Linked DNA regions of Homo sapiens: all the other regions are linked to region 2. Evidence: fine-mapped QTL for protein levels in blood plasma. A gene starts in region 2. Each other region holds a variant in brackets. All regions are shown on one strand. Distances are between the middles of the regions.

Region 1 (5,374 bases), 35 kb before region 2:
GGAAATAAAACTGGTTAAGACAGTGCTCTGATATGCTTAGTTTAGTTCCTTCATCCAAGAAAACAGACCTTCCCCAACCACACCTGCAGGGTTACTTCAGACAACCAGCTTCTCATTTTAGAGTCCCAGTTCTTAGAAATGGAGAAAGGAAGTTCCCCTTTAAGCCCTAGGTCCTGCCCACTAGAGCAGATACGCAACTTTAAAGAGTACAAATTCAAGTCAGATTTTCATATTTAGCAGGTGATCTTACAAAGATATTTTTCAATAAATGGATTATGTTTTTCAATGAATGGATCTTACAAAGATGTTTTTCAATAAATGGAAGGAAAGATGTGTGTGCTTGGTTTTTTTGCTGAGACCCAAATGTTGCCAGTGCAATCCCCCACCAGGGGTACAGGTCAAATCAAAGCTGAATGAAGAGCTCATCTTCGATGTAGCTTTCCAAGCTTTCAGAACGAGACAATAATAAGTGAGCAGCTTCCTCATCTATTTTACAGGTGAGGAAATTGAGGCCAAGAGAGAGGTAAAGAGTCGTGCTCTAGCCCATGAAAGAAGGAAGCAACAGAGCCCAGATTCAACTTCAGGTGTTTCTAACTCCAAAGCCTGAACCAAACTGCCTTCCTCTGATTGGCATTGGTACCTGGAACTTCACCTGTTCCAAGGAGCTGATATTTGCAAGGTGCCGTGGCTGAGGCAGGAGAATCGCTTGAACCTGGGAGGCAGAAGTTGTGGTGAGCCAAGATCGTGCCATTGCACTCCAGCCTGGGCAATAGAGGGAGACTCCGTCTCAAAAAAAAAAAAAAAAAAAAAAAAAAGCGGCAAAAGGCACCAAGACCCAGTGCTTCCCTGACCTCTGTTCCCTCTAAATCAGCATCTATCACAGTAGATCAACCTGGATAAAGCCAGGATTCACAGCAGAAGTGGCACCTCAGACACCAAAGCAGCTTTCCTTCTCAAAGCTTTTAAACATCATTGGGAAAACTTAGAGCAAATCAAACCAATGTTTTTCAATACATGGAAGGAAAGATGTGTGTGCTTGGTTTTGTTTTTTGCTGAGACCCAAACATTGTTAGTGCAAGCCCCCGCCAGGGGTGCAGGTGGAGTCAAAGCTGAATGAAGAGCTCGTCTTCAATGTAGCTCTCCAAGCTTTCAGAGCAAGACAACCATGGACCATCCTCTTCTTCAGACTGGCCTGTCTTCTTCTTGAACAATGTCACTTTGCTCCTCACTGCTGTCATCTGTATGGGGGGAAATAAACCCAATGCTTTGTAATCAGAGTGTGATTCTATTTCCACCGTCAGTCATCAATCATCTCAGTGATTTCTAGTCCTTTCCTGGTGAGCCACAGAATGGGATCTCATGGAGAAGGTAGGGCAGCGTGTGTTTTCCCCTTTTCACCTGTTTTCTACATTCAGAACCTCTAGGCATGCTTGATACCAGTCACCCTTCATGTCCTCAGCTCACGCCCCTCCCCTCACCTGAAACGCCCTCTCTCCTTTCTGCTTATTCCAACTCAGCCGTCTTAACGCCTTGCTTCATGTCTACCTCTTCCATAAAGCTTCCCCTGACCAGCACACCTCTCCGGGCTCTTATCTTTCTCTGAGGTCCTATAAATTTTGGTGCAGTGGCACGATCTCATCTCACTGCAGCCTCAACTTCCCAGGCTCAGGTGATTCTCCCACCTCAGCCTCCCAAGTAGCTGGGGCTACAGGTACATGCCACACACCCAGCTAATTTTTTGTATTCTTAGTAGAGACACGTTTTGCCATGTTCCCAAGGCTAGTCTCGAACTCCTGAGCTCCAGCGATCCACCCACTTTGGCCTCCCAAAGTGCTGGGATTACAGGCATGAGCAACCGTGCCTATAATTTTTAAATGTGTTGTCCATCAGGCAATTAATCAAATATCTTCCTGCAACAGCTCCTCTACTGCTCTCTCAGTGTGTTGGTTCAATCTTGCTCCTGTTTCCATTTCCCCTGCAGGTTTTAGTTTGTTCCCCTAAACTGGCCTTTTTTTTTTTTTTTTTGAGACAGAGTCTCACTCTGTCACCCAGGCTGAAGTGCAGTGGCACGATCTCGGCTCACTGCAGCCTCCGTCTCCCGGGTTCAAGTGATTCTCCTGCCTTGGTCTCCCAAGTAGCTGGGATTACAGGCACCTACCACACCCAGCTGATTTTTGTATTTTTAGTAGAGATGGGGGTCTCACCATGTTGGCCAGGCTGGTCTCAAACTCCTGACCTCAAATGATCCACCTGCCTCAGCCTCCCAAAATGCTGGGATTATAGGCGTGAGCCACCGCACCTGGCCTGAACTGGTCTTGTAAAGCTCCCTGCATGCAGACACTACCAGTCTCTATTTTCTGTTCTCCCACAATGCCAATATTGTGCCTACCCTAGACCAGGACCTTGATAAGTGTTTGTCAATTTGATTTTCATGTTGGTAGTTGATAGTAGTCTCAGGTTCTAGACTAAAGTTTAGCTATCTTCCCCAGCCTTTTAAAAAAACTAAACTCACCCCTTAGAGATTTCCTGCTGGGAAGCTCACCGCAGCAGTTCAGAGGTTTGTGGGCTTTTTTTTTTTTTTTTTTTTTTCTGAGGCAGGTTTCCTACTGCTGCCCAGACTGGAGTGCAGTGGTGTGATCATAGCTCACTGCAGCCTGGACTTCCTACACTCAAGTGATCCTCAGCCTCCCAAGTAGCTGGGAACACAGGTGCACACCACCATGACCGGCTAATTTTTCTTTTTTTTTTTTTTTTTTTTCGTAGAGACAGAGTCTCACCATGTTGCCCAGGCTAGTCTTGAACTTCTGGGCTTAAGTGATCTTCCCACCTTGGCCTCCCAAAGTGCTGGGATTATAGGCGTGAGCCAACGCGCCTTTTTTTGTTTGTTTTCTGTTTGTTTGTTTAAGGAAAAAGAGCTTACCTTG[A/T]AGATCCTGGAATCCATTTCCCATCTGTTCTATGTTCCCATTCACCAAGGCGGTCACTCTGTGAATGTGGTCCTGCTTAGGTATTTCTTTTGGCAACTCCTCTCTCTCACGTGCTCCCTCCTGTTCCCCTACTGCAGCATCTTCCTCCTCCTCCTCCTCCTCCTCCTCTTCCTCTTCTGAATCCACCAAAACCATGACATCATCCATGTTTTGTCCCCTAATTTCCAAAGGGGAAAAATAATCAAGAAGATTTCTTATTTTTCCCAACTTCAGCCCTCACTGAATAGGAAACACTAGATTCTTTGCAACCCCATTAGTAATATGGAAAATTACAGCTTGGTGAAGTAATGAGGTGATGGTGTGGTAACCGCAGAGATGCTGCCACAAATTGCTTCAGATGATGGTATCTCATGCTGGTTTATTACTCCCCTGCTCCTTGGGCAGGTGACCATATTGTCCCAGGCATCTACCATTTCATGTCCCCTTACAGCAGGTAGACAAATGTTTTTCCTTTTCTGAAATGCCCTCATTCTGCTCTACTTACCAAAATCTCTCCCCTTCCTCATTTTGGAAGACCCAGGTAAAGTCCTCTCCCTCCTGCTAAAGACCTAAATTAATGACTGCATTTAGAGTCCATGCTATAGTTTATTTATCACCAGCTCACTAGCTTGCCTACCCAGCCAGACTTTGCATTTCAGACTATACATTTCTTTTTTTTTTCTTTTTCGGGATAGAGTCTTGCGCTGTTGCCCAGGCTAGAGTGCAGTGGCGCAATCTTGGCTCACTGCAACCTCCACCTCCTGGGTGCAAGCAATTCTCCTGCCTCAGCCACCCAAGTAGCTGGGACTACAGGCATGCGCCACCACATCTGGCTAATTTTTGTATTTTTAGTAGAGACATGGTTTCAACATGTTGGCCAGGCTGGTCTCGAATGCCTGGCCTCAAGTGATCCAACCACCTTGGCCTCCCAGAGTGCTGAGATTATAGGCATGAGCCACTGTTGTGCCCGGCCTGGACTGTGCATTTCTTCTTCTTCTTCTTCTTCTTTTTTTTTTTTTTTTTGAGACAGAGTTTCATTCTTGTTGCCCAGGCTGGAGTGCAATGGCACAATCATGGCTCACCGCAACCTCTGCCTCCCAGGTTCAAGCAATTCTCCTGCTTCAACCTCCCAAGCAGCTGGGATTACAGGCATGCGCCACTACATGCGGCTAATTTTTTGTATTTTTAGTAGAGATGGGGTTTCTGCATGTTGGTCAGGCTGGTCTCGAACTCCCGACCTCAGGTGATCCACCCGCCTCGGCCTCCCAAAGTGCTGGGATTACAGGCGTGAGCCACTGCACCCGGCCTGGACTATGCATTTCTTAAGGAAGAAGAATGAACGCCACAGGTCAGTCACCTGCCCGAGGAGCTGTGTTACATTGTCATTTAATCTTCACAAACCCCCTGGTGAAACAAATCAGGAGACTAAGGCTCAGAAAGGGTCAGGGATTTTCTATGGGTACAGGGCTTGGGAATGGCACAGCTGTCATTTGAACCCAGGTCCAATGGTCTCAGTGCCTTTTCCTACTACACCACACTGATGCCTCCAGTGAGAAATAAGCCCAGGGAATGACAGACTTACTAAGAATGGCCCTCCAATACAGGGCAGTAAAGGTAATGTTTTGCTACGAAAGATGGTCCCAGGTCAATAATATCCTGTCATTTTGAAGAGGTAAAGAACTGTTTTTCCATAGGATCATAGAGAAGAGTACTCTGCTCCCACCCAGAATCTCCTTAGGAAATGAAATACACAAGTTCCGTTTGGTTCCTTCGCCCCTACTGGGGTTTCCTTTTGGGAGGGGGTTCTGGGCATGCTCATAGTAGTCTTCCAAAACACTGTAAAACTGGCTGGGTGCAGTGGCTCGTGCCTGTAATCCCGGCACTTTGGGAGGCCGAGGCGGGCAGACCACTTGAGGCCAGGAGTTTGAGACTAGCCTGGGCAACATGGTGAAACCCTGTCTCTACTAAAAATACAAAAATTAGCCAGGCTTGATGGTGCGCACCTGTAATCCCAACTACTCGGAAGGCTGAGGCAGGAGAATGGCCTCAACCTGGGAGGTAGGGATTGCAGTGAGCTGAGACTGCACCACTGCACTCCAGCCTGAGCAAGAGAGAGAGATTCTGTCTCAAAAAAAAAAAAAAAAAGAAAAAAGAAAAAGAAAAAAAAACTTAAGACTATGACTGATTCTTTCTTTTAGCTCTTTTTAGAAAATTAAATAAAACAAATGCATGAATGACTGGCTCAAAATGTACACATTGTCTTTCTGTCTCAATGACAGACCTGCAATGTGTCCAGCCCTGAGGTTTGGCGCTGTAAAAGAACACAGACTTTGGAATTGATTAGACCTGGACCTGAAGGAAGGCACTGCTGCTTTCTTCTGGAATGAGCTTGCAGAAATTACTTCACTGAG
Region 2 (8,053 bases):
TCACTATGTTGCCCAGGCTGGTCTTTGAACTCCTGGACTCAAGCATTCCACTCAGACCCACCTCGGGCTCGCAAAGTGGTGGGATTACAGGCGTGAGCTGCCACGCCCAGCCAACCCTGACTCATAAAAAAAGACCGACAGGTGCTAACGGGCATTAGACTGTCACTAGGTAACAAGAAGCAAATGCAACCCATTTTGCTGAGAAGTTTCACAATTGTCCAGCCCCCTCCACAATCAAGACCCAATACAAAGAGGCTGCAGGAATAGGAAGATGGGCAGAACCTGTTGGGGTGATAAAAATGATGAATTAGTGGTGATGGCTGTATAACCCTGGACTACACTAAAATCCCCTGGGTGGTACACTTAAAAAGGGTGAATTTTGTGGCATGTAAATTATATCTGAATAAAGCTGTTATAGAAAAAATAAACTGCCACTTGCCCCTGGCAATCCTTCCCATTTAAGTGAAAGAGTAATCATTATCTGTATTTGGCCTCTTGTCTGGTTAGAAGGGGCTCCCTTTTAAAGATCTGAAGCCAGCCTGGAGCCCCAGGAAGTTCTGATTCTCTCACCATTTTGGCCACACCATTCCCAAGACTTTTCAGCCAAGTCAGGATGAAAACAAACGAACAAACAAACAAAACACCAAATTTTAAAAACTAAGCCACTTGCTGAAAGGTGGAGAATGCCATCTAATGACAGAGATTCCAAAACAGCAAGAAATGCTTCTGAGCAATCACTTTAAAAAGCAGGTGAGGGCCGGGGGCGGTGGCTCACGCCTGTAATCCCAGCATTTTGGGAGGCCGAGGCAGGTGGATCACTTGAGGTCAGGAGTTGGAGACCAGCCTGGCCAACATGGTGAAACCTCATCTCTACTAAAAATTAGCTGAATGGCCGGGCGTGGTGGCTCCTGCCTGTAACCCCAGCACTTTGGGAGGCCAAGGTGGGCAAGATCAAGAGCTCGGGACCAGCCTGGCTAACACGGTGAAACCCCGTTTCTACTAAAAATACAAAAAGTTAGCCGGGCGTGGTGGCGCACACCTGTAATCCCACCTACTCGGGAGGCTGAGGCAGGAGAATCCCTTGTACCTGGGAGGCGGAGGTTGCAGTGAGCCAAGATCGCACCATTGCATTCCAGCCTGGGTAACAGAGCAAGACTCTGTCTCAAAAAAAAAAGCAGATAAGAATTCTTTTTATTTATTTATTTACTTTTTTTTTGAGATGAAGTCTCGCTCTGTTGCCTAGGCTGGAGTGCAAGGCGTAATTTCGGCTCACTGCAACCTCTGCCTTTGGGTTCAAGCAATTCTCCCGCCTCAGTCTTCTGAGTAGCTGGGATTACAGGCACCCGCCATCATGCCCCGCTAAGTTTTTGTATTTTTGTAGAGACAGGGTTTCACTGTGTTGGCCAGGCTGGTCTTGAACTCCTGACCTCAGGTGATCTGCCCACTTCGGCCTCCAAAAGTGCTGGGATTACAGGCGGGAGCCACCGCACCCAGCCAAGAATTATTTTTAAATTATTAGGATTGGGAACCCAAATTATCCAGTGGCAACCGCCACAATGGAAAGGAAGATGAACTTCAGAGTTACAGATGCAACATGTGTTCATGCAACCTGCAGACCTGCCCCTTGCCTAACTCCTTGGCAAAGAAATAAAGGAACAGTGGCTTGGAAAAAAGCCGTGGTGAAACTTTAGTCTTGGAACTTGAGCTAACATTGTTTTCTCCTCCAAGGCATAGAATGACATGATCACAAAAGAAACCATTTGAAGACATTTCACTTCTCCTGGTTTGGCTTACTCCGTTCTTTTTTAAACCACTGTATCTGAAGGTGCCCTTGGAGATCATCTAGTCCAGAGATGTGGCTGCCCTGTGGGCTGGGTTGAAGATGAGATTGAGTCCTGGTTCAGTGGAAAAGAACACAGTCATCGATTTAGTGATGTCTGACATAGACATGGAAGGGGTAGTTCTTGCCTGGCAGTCCTAAACCTCCTCACTTTACTACTGAGAAAATTGAGATTTAGGAAGATTAAGTTATCACTTAAAGTCCCAAGCAAATCACTGGGAGATGTGGGATTGTCACTCAGGTCACGTTACTCTGGTCTCCTGCACCAGACAGGATGCAATGATAAAATATAGTAACAAGTTTAGAAGTCATTCATATGGTGTCCAGAGGGTCCTTCTTGCCCCCCAACCTTAAATGTACAATAGAGAACCGAAGAGGGAGTAATATAAACTCCCTGATGCTGCCCATGTATTATTATTTACAGAGTAGGAGTTATACCCAAACATTTATTTATTTTTTTAAAGCAACTTTTCCCAAGAATAACCTAGGATTTACAATCCGGGGTAGCTAGTGGATGCATATAAGTTGTCTGGCATTGAATGTCAGGAGAAAAATTTTTTTCCCCAAAAACTCCCAACTTAAAAAACAAACACACAACAAAAATACACCAAGCTCAGGAAGCCCCCTGGCATCATACACAAAGGTGAAGCAGGTCTGGGCATCAAAATAGCTGGGCAAAGGCCCAACACGGTGGCTCACACCCATAATCCCAACACTTTGGGAGGCCGAGACAGGAGGATCGCTTGGGTCCAGGAGTTTAAGACCAGCCTGGGCTCAAGCGATTGTAGAGACCGTCTCTACAAAAAAATTTTAGAAATTAGCTAGGCGTGGTGGTGCACGCCTGTAGTCCCAGCTACTTGTAGGCTGAGGTGGGAGGATCAGTGCAGTGATTGCACCACTGCACTCCAGCCTGGGCAACAGAGCGAGAGCCTGGCTCGAAAAAAATAGCTGGCCATAGCAGTGGAGATAGGTTCCCCATGGGGCGGGTGGCAGTCAGCCTGAAAGCCAGGTCATTCCAGCAGGATGACTTCATCCCAGGGTTCTTCTCACTTCCCAGGTTCCTGGTGTTCATCGTGCAGGAAACACTGCAAACAGCTGGGGAGATGGGAATACTTGACAACCACCTTTCACGTCCAGAGATGACCAACTAGGAACTGTCCTCCCCCATCACCCACACCCCAGCACAGTGATTACTCAGCCAAATGCCTGCAGGGCCAGCAGGTAACACCCATGACTGAAGGTGGCGGGGCAAATATTACAACAGGGAGAGGTGGAACAAATTTGGGCTCATATGCCCTAGATAAGAGGATGACCACTGCCCAATTCCAACTGGGAAAGCAGGCCCCGTGTTGCCAGACCTTCAGATTTTTCCAGATAAACTGGAAATCTAGAGATGTTATTGTTTTTAAATGGTTGGTTAAAAAAAAAAAAGCAAAATAAAATTGTATGAGCCTAATAATTAGGAACTCTTGGCACTTGCTGCTAAGAAGCTCCAGCATACTTTACAACCCATCTCCAGAAACGTGCAAGAGGAGACCCGTTGGGTGGAGCAGACCCGGGAACACAAAAAGTAGCGCTCTGCCTGCATCCTGGCAAACTTCACCACCTCCTGGCTCCATCTCCTCTCCCTGCACCCCAGCCTCCTCCCAGCTTGTCACACTCCCAGCACACAGTAGGCATGCACAGTAGGCATGCTGGTGAATTAAATTCAAATATATATAAATAGTTCAATCTTTTTACATTCTACATATTTTTGTAAGCACCCCTCCAATTCTTTTTTCGTAGCAAAGCAGACCATAGATGAAGCATTTCAGACCTTTTGTCAATCATGTCAAGTGTGAGGGGAAGTCTTTTGTAAGTCAGCCAAGTATTTCAAAATAAAAAGCTTTTCCAAAAGTAAAGGCGGAAGACCCCGCTTTGAAGGCGCTGGTCGGCACAGGAAGACTTGCAAAGGTGTGTAGGGAAGTCCACCGGTTACAGGTGTAAGGCGAGTTCAACCTTGGGCAGAGGGAGGAGAAAAATAAAGTGGGAGTCTCGAGTTTGAGCACCAGCGTATCAGTTACTACTAAAACCAGAACGCGAATTTACATCCGACGCTTAAAAAAAAAAATCACTTTCCCGGCACACGTGCCTCTTTACTTTGCCCCCGCACGTCGGCTCGGCTCGGCTCCTCTGCAGCCTCACCGGCTGCCCACCCCAGGAGGCTGGGGGTATCTCGCCCCGCACCGGGCGCCCGGGAAAACTCCTTCCTGCAAAGACGGCCGAGCTGCGAGCAGGAAACCAAGACCCTCCTGGGGCAGCTTCTAGGCTGGGGCCACCACGGATCCGGGCGGAGTCGGAGGGAATTGGGTCTCTCGCTGTCCCCTCCCCACCGCTGACTGGGAAAACTCAACTTTTCCCTCCAGATCGCGGCCCCTTACCTACGGCGACCCAGCCGGCCAGGAGCGCCCCGAGGCAGACGAGGACGCGGGGCTCGGGCGCACTGCCGCCTGCGGCCATCTCGCCCCAGATCCCGGCTCAGGAAACGCAGGCTCGGGCTGGGCTGGACGTGTGTGCCCCAGGGCCCCGGGGCCCGGGGTACCGAGGGCTCCTCCCAGGTCCTCGGAACGGCAGAGTGGCCCCACTTCCTCGGCCCCCAGGAAGGATGCTTGGCTGAGCCGAGTGTCCAGGGCCGGCAGCGGAGCTCGGCTGCAGGCTCGGGTCCCCGCTCCCGAGCGCCCTGGCCGGGGAGGGAGGGCGCACCCCGCCCCCTGCGCCCGCCAGCCTACTCCTGCCGGCGGAAAACAACAGGAGCGGGATCCCTCCCGCCTCCCAGCCAGGCGGGAGCCCAACTTCCTCTACCTTGGCCCGGGAGGAGGGCTTTCTGCCGAGGGCGCGCCGAGCCGGGTCCCGCCGGGCCAGGGGCGGGGCGCGGAGGCTGGGCCCTCCCCAGTCCACTCCGCCCGGGACAGCAGTACCGAGTCGCGGGGACAGCGGGCGGGACGGAGCCCTGCAGCTGCCGCAGGACGCAACCCCCGCCGCTGCCCCGGGCTGCAGAACCCGGAGGAAGCGGTTGCCAAGCTGCAGAACGCAGGACCCCCCTGGCAGTCCCCGCTGAGCGTCTCGAGGGATTCCGGTCTGTGTCCCTGGGCGCAGGGCGGGCGCCAAGGCCGCCATCGCTTCCTTTCCTTACCCTCTGCAAAAGGGAGCCAGAGAAAGATGATCCCCTGACTTTCAGCCAAAGCAGCCACGAGACTCCGGTTCTCCAGTGAACTGGCTGGGACCACACAGTGACAGCGAGAGCCAAGGAGTCCCCAGGACGTGTTTCTCAAGAGTTTTGTTTTTGCTTTTCCCCTTTTAGTTCTCCCACCCCTTACCCAGTCAGATTCCCAGGCTAAGCTCCTCTCTTCCCTGCCATGCCCTCATCCCATTCTGTCCTGGGGAAAATGCGGCTTTGATATCCTCAGGAAGAGCCATCCATAAAACAGCCCTAGGAGAAACTTCCTGTTTCAAATAATAATAATATGGCAGGGCGTGGTGGCTCACACCTGTAATCCCAGCACTTTGGGAGGCCGAGGTGGGCGGATCACAAGGTCAGGAGTTCGAGACCAGCCTGACCAACATGGTGAAACCCTGTCTCTACTAAAAATACAACAATTAGCCGGGCATGATGGCGGGCGCCTGTAATCCCAGCTACTGGGTAGGCTGAGGCAGGAGAATCGCTTGAACCCAGCAGGCGGAGGTTGCAGTGAGCCGATATCACGCCATTGCACTCCAGCCTGGGCGACTGAGCGAGACTCCATCTCAAAATAAATATTAACGTTAAAAAAAAATCATTAGTTCTGTTGTTCAACGGTCCCCTTATTGAAATGCTTCTTCCATGAGGAAATCCTCTTGAAACCACTTTAAAAAAAAAATGTTTCTCCTGGTGAACTGAGCAATGAAGCTGAACAGTTCTGCCTTTTTTACTTTTCTGTTTTTTATTTTTTTGAGACAGGGTGTCACTCCAGTTGCCCAGGCTAGAGTGCAGTAGCACAATCATACCTCGCTGCAGCCTCAAACTACCAGGCTCAAGTGATCCTCCCACCTCAGCCTCCCGAGTAGCTGGGACTACAGGTGTGCAGCACCACGCCCAGCTAATTTTTGTAATTTTAGTAAAGACAGCGTTTCTCCATGTTACCCAGGCTGGTCTCGAACTCCTGACCTCAAGTGATCCACCCGCCTTGGCCTGCCAAAGTGTTGGGATTACAGGTGCGAGCCACCGCGCTCAGCCCTTTTTTATTCTTTGCTCAAATATTTTTAAATAACTGTTCATCAGCCGGGCACGTTGGCTCATGCCTGTAATCCCAGCACTTTGGGAGGCCGAGGCAGGTGGATCACCTGAGGTAAGGAGTTCGAGAGTAGCCTGGCCAACATGGTGAAACTTCGTCTCTACTAAAAATACAAAAATTAGCCCGGTGTGGTGGCAGGCGCCTGTAATCCCAGCTACTTGGGAGGCTGAGGCAGGAGAATCGCTTGAACCCAGGAGGTGGAGGTTGCAGTGAGCCGAGATCGCGCCATTGCACTCCAGCCTGGGGAGAAGAGCGAGACTTCGTCTCAAAAAAAATAAATAAATAAAAAATAAAATAAAATAACTGTTCATCAGATTCTTGACAGGAATTTTGTTTGTTTGTTTTTTGAGACGGAGTCTCGCTCTGTCGCTGCAAGCTCCGCCTCCCAGGCTCATGCCATTCTCCTGCCTCAGCCTCCCAAGTAGCTGGGACTACAGGCTCCTGCCACCACGCCCGGATAATTTTTGTATTTTTAGTGGAGACGGGGTTTCACCGTGTTAGTGTGGGGAAAAGCAAGAGAGATCAGATTGTTACTGTGTCTGTGTAGAAAGAAGTAGACATGGGAGACTCCATTTTGTTATGTACTAAGAAAAATTCTTCTGCCTTGAGATTCTGTGACCTTACCCCCAACCCCGTGCTCTCTGAAACATGTGCTGTGTCAAACTCAGGGTTAAATGGATTAAGGGCGGTGCAAGATGTGCTTTGTTAAACAGATGCTTGAAGGCAGCATGCTCCTTAAGAGTCATCACCACTCCCTAATCTCAAGTACCCAGGGACACAAACACTGCGGAAGGCCGCAGGGACCTCTGCCTAGGAAAGCCAGGTATTGTCCAAGGTTTCTCCCCATGTGATAGTCTGAAATATGGCCTTGTGGGAAGGGAAAGACCTGACTGCCCCCAGCCCGACACCCGTAAAGGGTCTGTGCTGAGGAGGATTAATATAAGAGGAAGGCATGCCTCTTGCAGTTGAGACAAGAGGAAGGCATCTGTCTCCTGCCCCTCCCTGGGCAATGGAATGTCTCGGTATAAAACCCGATTGTACGTTCCATCTACTGAGATAGGGAAAAACCGCCTTAGGGCTGGAGGTGGGACCTGCGGGCAGCAATACTGCTTTGTAAAGCATTGAGATGTTTATGTGTATGCATATCTAAAAGCACAGCACTTAATCCTTTACCTTGTCTATGATGCATAGACCTTTGTTCACGTGTTTGTCTGCTGACCCTCTCCCCACAATTGTCTTGTGACCCTGACACATCCCCCTCTCGGAGAAACACCCACGAATGATCAATAAATACTAAGGGAACTCAGAGGCTGGCGGGATCCTCCATATGCTGAACGCTGGTTCCCCGGGTCCCCTTATTTCTTTCTCTATACTTTGTCTCTGTGTCTTTTTCTTTTCCAAGTCTCTCGTTCCACCTTACGAGAAACACCCACAGGTGTGGAGGGGCAACCCACCCCTTCAGTTAGCCAGGATGGTCTCGATCTCCTGACCTCGTGATCCACCTGCCTCGGCTTCCCAAAGTGCTGGGATTACACGCGTGAGCCACCACACCCGGCCTGGAATTTTTTTTTTTTTTTTTTTTTAGACAGAGTCTCCCTATATCATCCAGGCTGAAGTGCAGTGGTGTAATCATACCTCACTGCAGCCTCAACCTCCTAGGCTTAAGTCAATCCTCCCAGAGTGCTGGAATTACAGGCATGAGCCACTGCACCCAACTTGGTTCTTGCTTTTCATGTTTGACCTTGTGGAGATCCTATACTAACCAGACCTGTTTCCTGTATCCTCAGTACCTGCCAGCTAGTTGCCATTCTAATATACATTTGTTGAGTAAACAAATGAGAATTGATTAGTTTTGATATTGTAGTTCCTCAGCTTTTCTGGCAAACACCTTACATCCTCACCT
Region 3 (8,053 bases), 28 kb before region 2:
TAAAGGTTCTGTAAAGACAAATCACACCATTGATTCTTCCATCAGATATGTGTGCAATTAGAACAACACCTCCCTTTCTCTGCGTGGATCCAGTTCTTGTCTTGATTCCTGACCTTGGGTAAGGCTTATGACCTGTCTGTAATGCCAGATAAATATTTTATCACCCAACCTCAGAGAGTTTGTGGGGATCAGATGGAGCAGGGAATGTGAACAAACAATGGAAAGTTAAAATCTCTCTGTCTACCAAACACTGAGACTATTTCTAAGGCCATGGTAAGTAAGAGTGTTGAGAGTTATCAATGCCATGATAAACAGAGTGATCAACGGAACAGAACAGAGAGTCCAGGAACGGGTCCACACGTAAGTATAATTGATATATGACAGGGTCTTGAGCAAAGGAAGCACTATTTAAGAATTGGTACTAGAGCCCGGGCGCAGTGGCGCATGCCTGTAATCCCAGCACTTTGGGAGGCTGAGGAGGGCGGATCACCTGAAGTCGGGAGATCGAGACCAGCCTGACCAACATGTTAAAACCCCGTCTCTACTAAAAATACAAAATTAGCCAGGTGTGGTGGTGCATGTCTGTAATCCCAGCTACTTGGGAGGCTGAGGCAGGAGAATCACTTGAACCCGGGAGGCGGGGGTTGCGGTGAGCCAAGATCGCGCCATTGCACTCCAGCCTGGGCAACAAGAGCGAAATTCCATCTCAAAGAAAGAAAGAGGGCCGGGCGCGGTGGCTCACGCCTGTAATCCCAGCACTTTGGGAGGCCGAGGCAGGCGGATCACGAGGTCAGGAGGTCGAGACCATCCTGGCTAACACAGTGAAACCCCATCTCTACTAAAAATACAAAAAATTAGCCGGGCACAGCGGCGGGCGCCTGCAGTCCCAGCTACTTGGGAGGCTGAGGCAGGAGAATGGCATGAACCCAGGAGGTGGAGCTTGCAGTGAGCCGAGATCGCACCACTGCACTCCAGCCTGGGTGACAGAGCAAGACTCCGTCTCAAAAAAAAAAAAGAAAGAAAGAGGAGGGGAGGGGAGGGAAAGAAAAGAAGGAAGGTAGGAAAGGGAAAAGGGAGAAGAGAAAGGAAAAGGGAGAAGGGAAGGGAAGAAAGAGGCCAGGTGTGGTGGCTCATGCTTGCAATCTCAACACTTTGGGAGGCTGAGATGGGAGGCTCACTTCAGGCCAGGAGTTCAAGACCAACCTGGTCAACACAGTGCGACCTCATCTGTATAAAAAATAAAATAAAAAGAAATAAGTAGAGACATATATAGTAAAACTTAAAATTCAGGACCATGGTTACCTTTCGAGAGAGGCCCAAGATGAGACTAGGCCTACAGGGAGGGTTCCCAGGTAAAATTCAGTATGCCCAGTGAAATTTGGATTTCAGATAAACAATGAATAGTTTTTTTAGTGTAAGTATGTCTCATGAAATATTTGGGACACACTTATACTTAAAAGTATTTATTTTTCTAAACTCAAATTTAAGCAGGCATCCTGTTTTTAAAGTTCTATTGCTATTTTCTTCTTTTTGAAGTGGATTCTCGCTCTGTCACCCAAGCTGAAGTGCAGTGGTGTGATCTCGGCTCACTGCAACCTTCGCCTCCCAGATTCAAGCAATTCTGCCTCAGACTTCCGAGTAGCTGGGATTACAGGCACCTGCCACCATGCTCAGCTAATGGTCTCGAACTCCCAACCTCAGGTGATCTGCCCATCTCAGCCTCCCAAGTAATTTTGTATTTTTAGTAAAGACGAGGTTTCACCATACTAGCCAGGCTGGTCTCAAACTCCTGGCCTCAAGTGATCCACCCGCCTCGGCCTCCCAAAGTGCTGGGATTACAGGCGTGAGCCACTGTGCCCAGCCCTATCGTTGTTTCCAAATCTGGCCCTGAGACATACAAGTAACCTAATGCATGTTGGTACTATTCTGTATCCTCAGTGGGATGATAGTTTCTTAGGTGTTCATTTTGCTGTTATGCTTTACAACTGACATACACTAGATATCTATTCGTTGGTGTGTATAGATATTATGTAATTTTTGCTACCTATGGAAATATTAGTGAGTTTAGGGTTGGATAATTTCTTCCAGCCACCTTGTCAAGTCATAAGCAAGCAGATATGCCTTCTCCCAGTTGGCAGTGACCCATGTGTAGGGAGGCACCAGGCTGTCCTCATGCTGATGCTGGGTGCTCTGAAGCTCTGAACCCTCCCTCCTTCAGGCCCAGTTCCACCACTCACCTTTCACACTCAGCCAGATTTCCATCTCCCTCACCCCTACAGGGCTGTCAGCTCGGCAGATGTAGTAGCCCTCATCCAGGTCCTGGGAGCAGTTGTGGATAGTGAGGGTGGAGTTCTGGCCATCCTGGGTAATGAGATGGCGGCTGCTAGGCTGG[ATGATCACCTCGGGCTGGG/A]TAAGGTTCCTCAGCCACAGGATCTTGGCAGGGGGGTAGGCCCCAGACACCTGGCATGTAAGCGTCACATTGCCCCCAGTGAAGCAAGTCTTCATGGGCTCAGAGAGAAGGGAGGGACCCCCTGGTGATCAGAAGGTAAACAAAGACAAATGTTTAAAGAGATTCAAGTCATGGCCTGAGATCTGCAGGAAAACTGCAGTAGTTTTTTGTTTTGTTTTGTTTTGTTTTGAGATGGAGGTTTTGCTCTGTTGCCCAGGCTGGAGTGCAGTGGTGCGATCTCAGCTCACTGCAACCTCTGCCTCCCTCCCGGGTTCAAGCAATTCTCCTGCCTCAGCCTCCCGAGCTGGGATTACAGGCATGCGCCACCACACCTGGCTAATTTTTGTATTTTTAGTAGAGACAGGGTTTCACCATGTTGCCCAGGCTGGTCTCAAACTCCCAACCTCAGGTGATTTGCCCATCTCAGTCTCCCAAAGTGCTGGGATTACAGGCGTGAGCCACCGCATCCGGCCCCAGTCCCCTTTATCTGTGATTTCACTTTCTGAGGTTTCAGTTACCATGGTTGACTACAGTCCAAAAATACTAAATGGAAAATTTCAGAAATGAACAATTTTTTTTTTTTTTTGAGATGGAGTCTCACTTTGTCGCCCAGGCTGGAGTGCAGTGATGCAATCTCAGCTCACTGCAATCTCCACCTCCTGAATTCAAGAGATTTTCCTGCCTCAGCCTCCCAAGTGGCTGGGATTACAGGCATGAGCCACCACGCCCACCTAATTTTTGTATTTTTAGTAGAGACGGGGTTTCACCATATTGGCCAGGCTAGTCTCAAACTCCTGACCTCAGGTGATCCACTTGCCTTAGCCTCCCAAAGTGCTAGGATTACAGGCGTGAGCCACCGTGCCGGGCCAATTCATAAATTTTTTATTTTTTCATTTCTTGCAGTACTTTTAAGTATATTCACAATTTCCTAAGTTTTAAACTGCACATTGTTCTGAGTCGTGTGACGAAATCTCACACCATCTGCATGAGCCTTTCTTCATCACAAGAAGGCTGAGTAGATATTTTGAGAGAAAGATCACATTCGCATACCTTTTATGACAGTATATTGTTATACTTGTCTATTTTTTATTAGTTACTATTGTTAATCTCTTATTGTGCCTAATGTATAAATTAACCTTATCATAAGTATTTATGTATAAGAAAAAGCATAGTATATATATGTATATATGTATATATGTGTATATGTATATATATGTGTATATATGTATATATGTGTATATGTATATATATGTATATATATGTATATATGTGTGTATATATATATGTGTGTGTGTGTATATATGTGTGTGTGTGTATATATATATATAGGGTTCAGTGCTACCCATGGCTTCAGGCATCCACTGGGGATCTAGGAACATATCCCTCATGGGTAAGGCAGGAACACTACATTTCCTTCCTAATGAAGCAACTCCAGAAATTTCTTTTTTTCTTTTTTTGTTTTTGAGACAAGGTCTCGCTCTGTCACCCAGGCTGGAGTGCAGTGCTGTGATCTTGGCTCACTGCAACCTCTGCCTCCCAGGTTCAAGTGATTCTCATGCTTCAGCCTCCCAAGTAGCTGGGATTACAGGTGCCTGCCACCATGCCTGGCTAATTTTTGTACTTTTAGTAGAAACAGGGTTTCACCATGTTGGTCAGGCTGGTCTTGAACTCCTGACCTCAAATGATCCTCCACCTTGGCCTCCCAAAGTGCTGGGATTACAGGCATGAGCCACCGTGCCTGGCCAACTCCAGAAATTTCTCCACCACACCTCGTCTTACATCATAATAAGCCTAAGATTACTAGGCATTTACTGTGGGCAAGGCACTGTTACATGTATTAACCCAATTCACTCTCACAGCAACCCTGTTATTATGCCCATTTTGCAGATAAGGAAACTGAGGCACAGAGAAAGTTAAGTAATTTGCTGAATGCTACAGAACTAAATAGGCAATGCAGCTAGGATTCAGAGTGATCAACTGCCCCAGTCTGCCCAGGACGTGGAGTATTCCCAGAATGAGGAGTTTTCAGTCCTAAAACCAGGAGAGTTCTGTGCAAACCAGGATAAACTGGCTACTGTATCCATAAGCCTTCCTTCTATGCTATACACTTTTACACATAAAAACTGTACTGATCGTATAAAAATGGACACATATCTGACAAGGATTTCAAGGGGACAAGAGGGCAGCTGTATTTGTTTCCAATTGCTGATGTAATAGATTGTGACAAACTTAGTGGCTTAAAGCACATTTATTCTCTTAACAGTTGTGGAGGCCAGGAGTCTAGAACGTCTTACAAGGTTAACATCAAGATGTTGGCAGAGCTGGTTCCTTTTGGACGCTCTAGAGCAAGCTTTTCCAACCTGCAGCTGCGGGCTAAATTCGGCCCAGGATGGCTTTGAATGTGAGGACATTTTTGTTTATCTGTGTGATGGATATCATGAAAATTATGCACGGTCCCTTTTTTTTTTTTTTGGCTCATCACCTATCGTTAGTGTTAGTGTTTGTGTGAAATACATTCCCATGATCAAATTACCTCCCACCAGGTCCCTCTGCCAATATTTGGAGTTACAATTCAACATGAGATTTGGGTGGGGACACAGAGCCAAACCATATCATGGTGTTTCGCTGTGTTGCCCAGGCTGGTCTCAAACTCCTGGGCCCAAGCAATATGCCCGTCCTTGGCCTCCCAAAGTGCTGGGATTACAGTCATGAGCTACCACATCTGACTGATCCTGGCGCTTCTGATCTCTCTTACCTTTCCCTTTTTTTTGTTTTGAGACAGAGTTTCACTCTGACACCCAGGCCTGGAGTGACCGCTCACTGCAGCCTCAACCTCCTAGGTACAAGCAATACTCTCACATCAGCCTCCCCAGTAGCTGGGATTATAGGTGCATACCACCATGCCCAGCTACTTTATTTATTTTTTATTGTTTGTAGAAACAAGGTCTGTGTTGCCCAGGCTGGTCTCGAATTCCTAGCCGTAAGCTATCCTCCTGCCTCTGACTCCCAAAGTGCTGGGATTACAGGCGTGAGCCACCACGCCCGGCCTTCTCCCTTCTTACAAAGAAAGACATCAGTCATTGGATTACAGCCTACTCTAATCCACTATGACCTTATCTTAACTTGATTCCATCTGCAAAGACTCTTTCTGAATAAAGTCATATCCACAGGTATTAGGGTTTGGACTTGAACATATCTACTGGGGGGACACAACTGAACCCCCAACCTCCACCCAGCTTTATCAGTACTTTACACACGATGCCCCGGCCACACTGGTCTTCTCTCGGGTCCTCAAATGCCAAGTTTGTTTCCACCTCAGGGCCTCTGCGTTTGCTGTTGCCTCTGCCAGGAACACTCAGCCCACGGATCTTCACCTAGCCAGCTCCTTCTCATTCTAAGGATAGATTATTACCATCTCACGGAGACCTCCCTGCCACCCTAGGAAAAGTGCCCCTCTTCTTATAAAGGCCTCCCTTTTATATATACCATTTTATTATCCTCATATTATCATCATATCTGGACCTATCTTACTTGTTTTTGTACTTTCTGTCTTCCTTCTACCCCCATGCCACCCAGAATATAAGCTCTGTGAAAGAGGAATGTTTGTGGTTTTAATATGTACAGACATTCTCTGACACTCCTCCCTTCAAAAAGTGGTGCCTAATTCTTCCCAGCCCTCTTCAATGTGGGCTGGACTTATTTCTAAGACACAGAGTGTGGCAGAAGGGATCCCATGTAACTCCTGAGGCTAGGTCATAGAAAGGATAGCATCAGCTTGACTCACTCCATTTTGGATCATTTGCTCTGAGGGAAGCCATCTGCCATGTTGGAAGGACACTCAAGCAGCCTTATGGAGAATCCCACATGGAGAAGAAATAGTTGCCAGGCATGGGAGTGAGGACTTCAAAAGTAGATCTTTCAGATGATTTCAGCCCCGCAACCTTCAATTCTTCCGGCTGACACCCCAGACATACAGAGCCAAGACAAACCATCCCCAATGCCCACTGTGCCCTCTCTGAATTCCTGACCCACAGAAATCATCAGATAATAAATGGTTATTCTTGTTTTAAGCCACTATGTTTGAGAGTAATTTGTTACATAACTAGAAGCTATAGTTTGAATGTTTGTCCCCTCCAAATCTCATGTTTAAATTTGATCCTCAGTGTTGGAGGTAAGGCCTAATGGAAGGTGTTTGGGTAAGTGAATTCTCATTCTATTAGCTTACTGCAAAAGTAATTACAATTTTTGTCACTATTTTCTTTTTTTGAGATGGAGTCTCACTCCATCGCCCAGGCTGGAGTGCAGTGGTGCGATCTCGGCTCACTGGAAGCTCCGCCTCCTGGGTTCACGCAGTTCTCCTGCCTCAGCCTCCCGAGTAGCTGGGACTACAGGCATGCGCCACCACGCCCAACTAATTTTTGTATTTTTAGTAGAGATGGGGTTTCATCATGTTGGCCAGGCTGGTCTCAGACTCCTGACCTCAAGTGATCCACCTGCCTCAGCCTCCCAAAGTGCTGAGATTACAGGTGTGAGCTACCACGCCCAGCCACTGCTGGTTGTTAAAAAGAGTTTGGCACCTCCCTTCTCTCTCTTGCTTCCTCTCTCACTATGGAACTCTGCATAAGCTGGCTCCCCTTTACCTTCTGTCATGAGCAGAAGCAGCCTGACGCTCTCACCAGAAGCCAAGCAGATGCTGGTGCCATGTTTCTTGCACAGCCTACGGAACTATGAGCAAATAAAGTAATTTTCAGCTAGGTGCGGTGGCTCACACCTATAATCCCAGCACTTTAGGAGGCCGAGGCAGGTAGATCACTTGGGGTCAGTTCGAGACCAGCCTGGCCAACATGGTGAAACCCCATTTCTACTAAAAATACAAAAATTAGCTGGGCATGATGGTGCACGCCTGTAGTCCCAGCTACTCAAGAGGCTAAGGCAGGAGAATTGCTTGAACCTGGGAGGCAGAGGCTGTAGTGAGCCAAGATCATGCCACTGCACTCCAGTCTGGGCAACAGAGCAAGACTCTGCCTAAAAAAAAAAAAAAAAAAAAAAAAAAAAAAATTTTCTTTATAAACTACCCAGCCTCAGGTATTCCTTTACAGCAACAGTAAATGGACAGACACAAAAGACGATGAACCTCATATGTCTTGTTCACTGCTCCATCCTCAGCACGTAGAAACTGTACCTGGCACATAGCAGGGGTTCAATTAGTATCTGTCAAGTGGAAAATAGCTGGGACTAGAATGAAGAAGCTTGAGCTAAGCATCTCTAAAATTTGAAAAAAGTGAAACATAAAGAAAAAGAAAGGGAGAAAGGGAAGGAATTCAGTCCACCCTGACATCCGGGGATTTCTTCCTCAGAAGAACTCTCAAATGCTTCTCCTAGGAGAAAGGAAGGCAGGGAAACTCCAACCCCAAGACAAAGCAAAACAGACTCACTGATCTGCACCATGCAGCTGGCGCCCGACTCTGGCCCAACTATGTGGCTTGTAACACACTTGAACTTCTTGCCATCCGACAGCTGGGACTCGCTCAGCATTTCCACCCCCAGCTTTGACTTCCCCACGATTACACCTCCTGGCTCTTCTATCCACAGGAAGTCAGGGTC

Alleles and levels. Alleles are on the strand shown, and positions count from the first base shown. The strength of an association depends on the size of the effect and on how common the allele is.
In carriers of allele A in region 1, the plasma level of the protein whose gene starts at base 4,679 in region 2 tends to be lower than with T alone (moderate association).
For the plasma level of the protein whose gene starts at base 4,679 in region 2, allele ATGATCACCTCGGGCTGGG in region 3 goes with a lower level than allele A (strong association).

The links. PIP is the posterior inclusion probability: the model's chance that the variant is causal. Protein levels are from antibody-based Olink assays in UK Biobank. Linkage for the fine-mapping came from a reference panel and not from the study's own genotypes, which makes the PIPs less certain.
Region 1: its variant is fine-mapped to the plasma level of the VSIG10 protein (UK Biobank, PIP above 0.99). The variant lies in the coding sequence of VSIG10. If it changes the protein, the assay may bind it differently, which can mimic a change of level.
Region 3: its variant is fine-mapped to the plasma level of the VSIG10 protein (UK Biobank, PIP above 0.99). The variant lies in the coding sequence of VSIG10. If it changes the protein, the assay may bind it differently, which can mimic a change of level.

The regions. Positions count from the first base shown.
Region 1 is chr12:118,065,457-118,070,830 of GRCh38, forward strand. VSIG10 (V-set and immunoglobulin domain containing 10) reads right to left here. Exons shown (of 9, transcript NM_019086.6): 8 at 2,921-3,141; 9 at 1-1,238. The coding sequence ends at 1,183. All of the region lies in intron 1 of LOC124903030 (a long non-coding RNA gene), which reads left to right. Among named protein-coding and RNA genes, the nearest start is that of WSB2, 7.0 kb to the left of the region's middle. The variant A/T (reference allele first, on the strand shown) is at 2,925.
Region 2 is chr12:118,099,333-118,107,385 of GRCh38, forward strand. VSIG10 (V-set and immunoglobulin domain containing 10) reads right to left here and starts at 4,679. Exons shown (of 9, transcript NM_019086.6): 1 at 4,261-4,679. The coding sequence starts at 4,339. It overlaps LOC124903029 (a long non-coding RNA gene), which reads right to left and starts at 4,250. Exons shown (of 2, transcript XR_007063478.1): 1 at 3,657-4,250; 2 at 2,273-2,935. RefSeq lists a silencer at 4,523-4,772 and an enhancer at 6,414-7,129.
Region 3 is chr12:118,071,462-118,079,514 of GRCh38, forward strand. It overlaps VSIG10 (V-set and immunoglobulin domain containing 10), which reads right to left. Exons shown (of 9, transcript NM_019086.6): 4 at 7,885-8,053; 5 at 2,238-2,531; 6 at 1-8. LOC124903030 (a long non-coding RNA gene) reads left to right here. Exons shown (of 2, transcript XR_007063479.1): 2 at 4,713-6,519. Among named protein-coding and RNA genes, the nearest start is that of WSB2, 14 kb to the left of the region's middle. The variant ATGATCACCTCGGGCTGGG/A (reference allele first, on the strand shown) is at 2,393.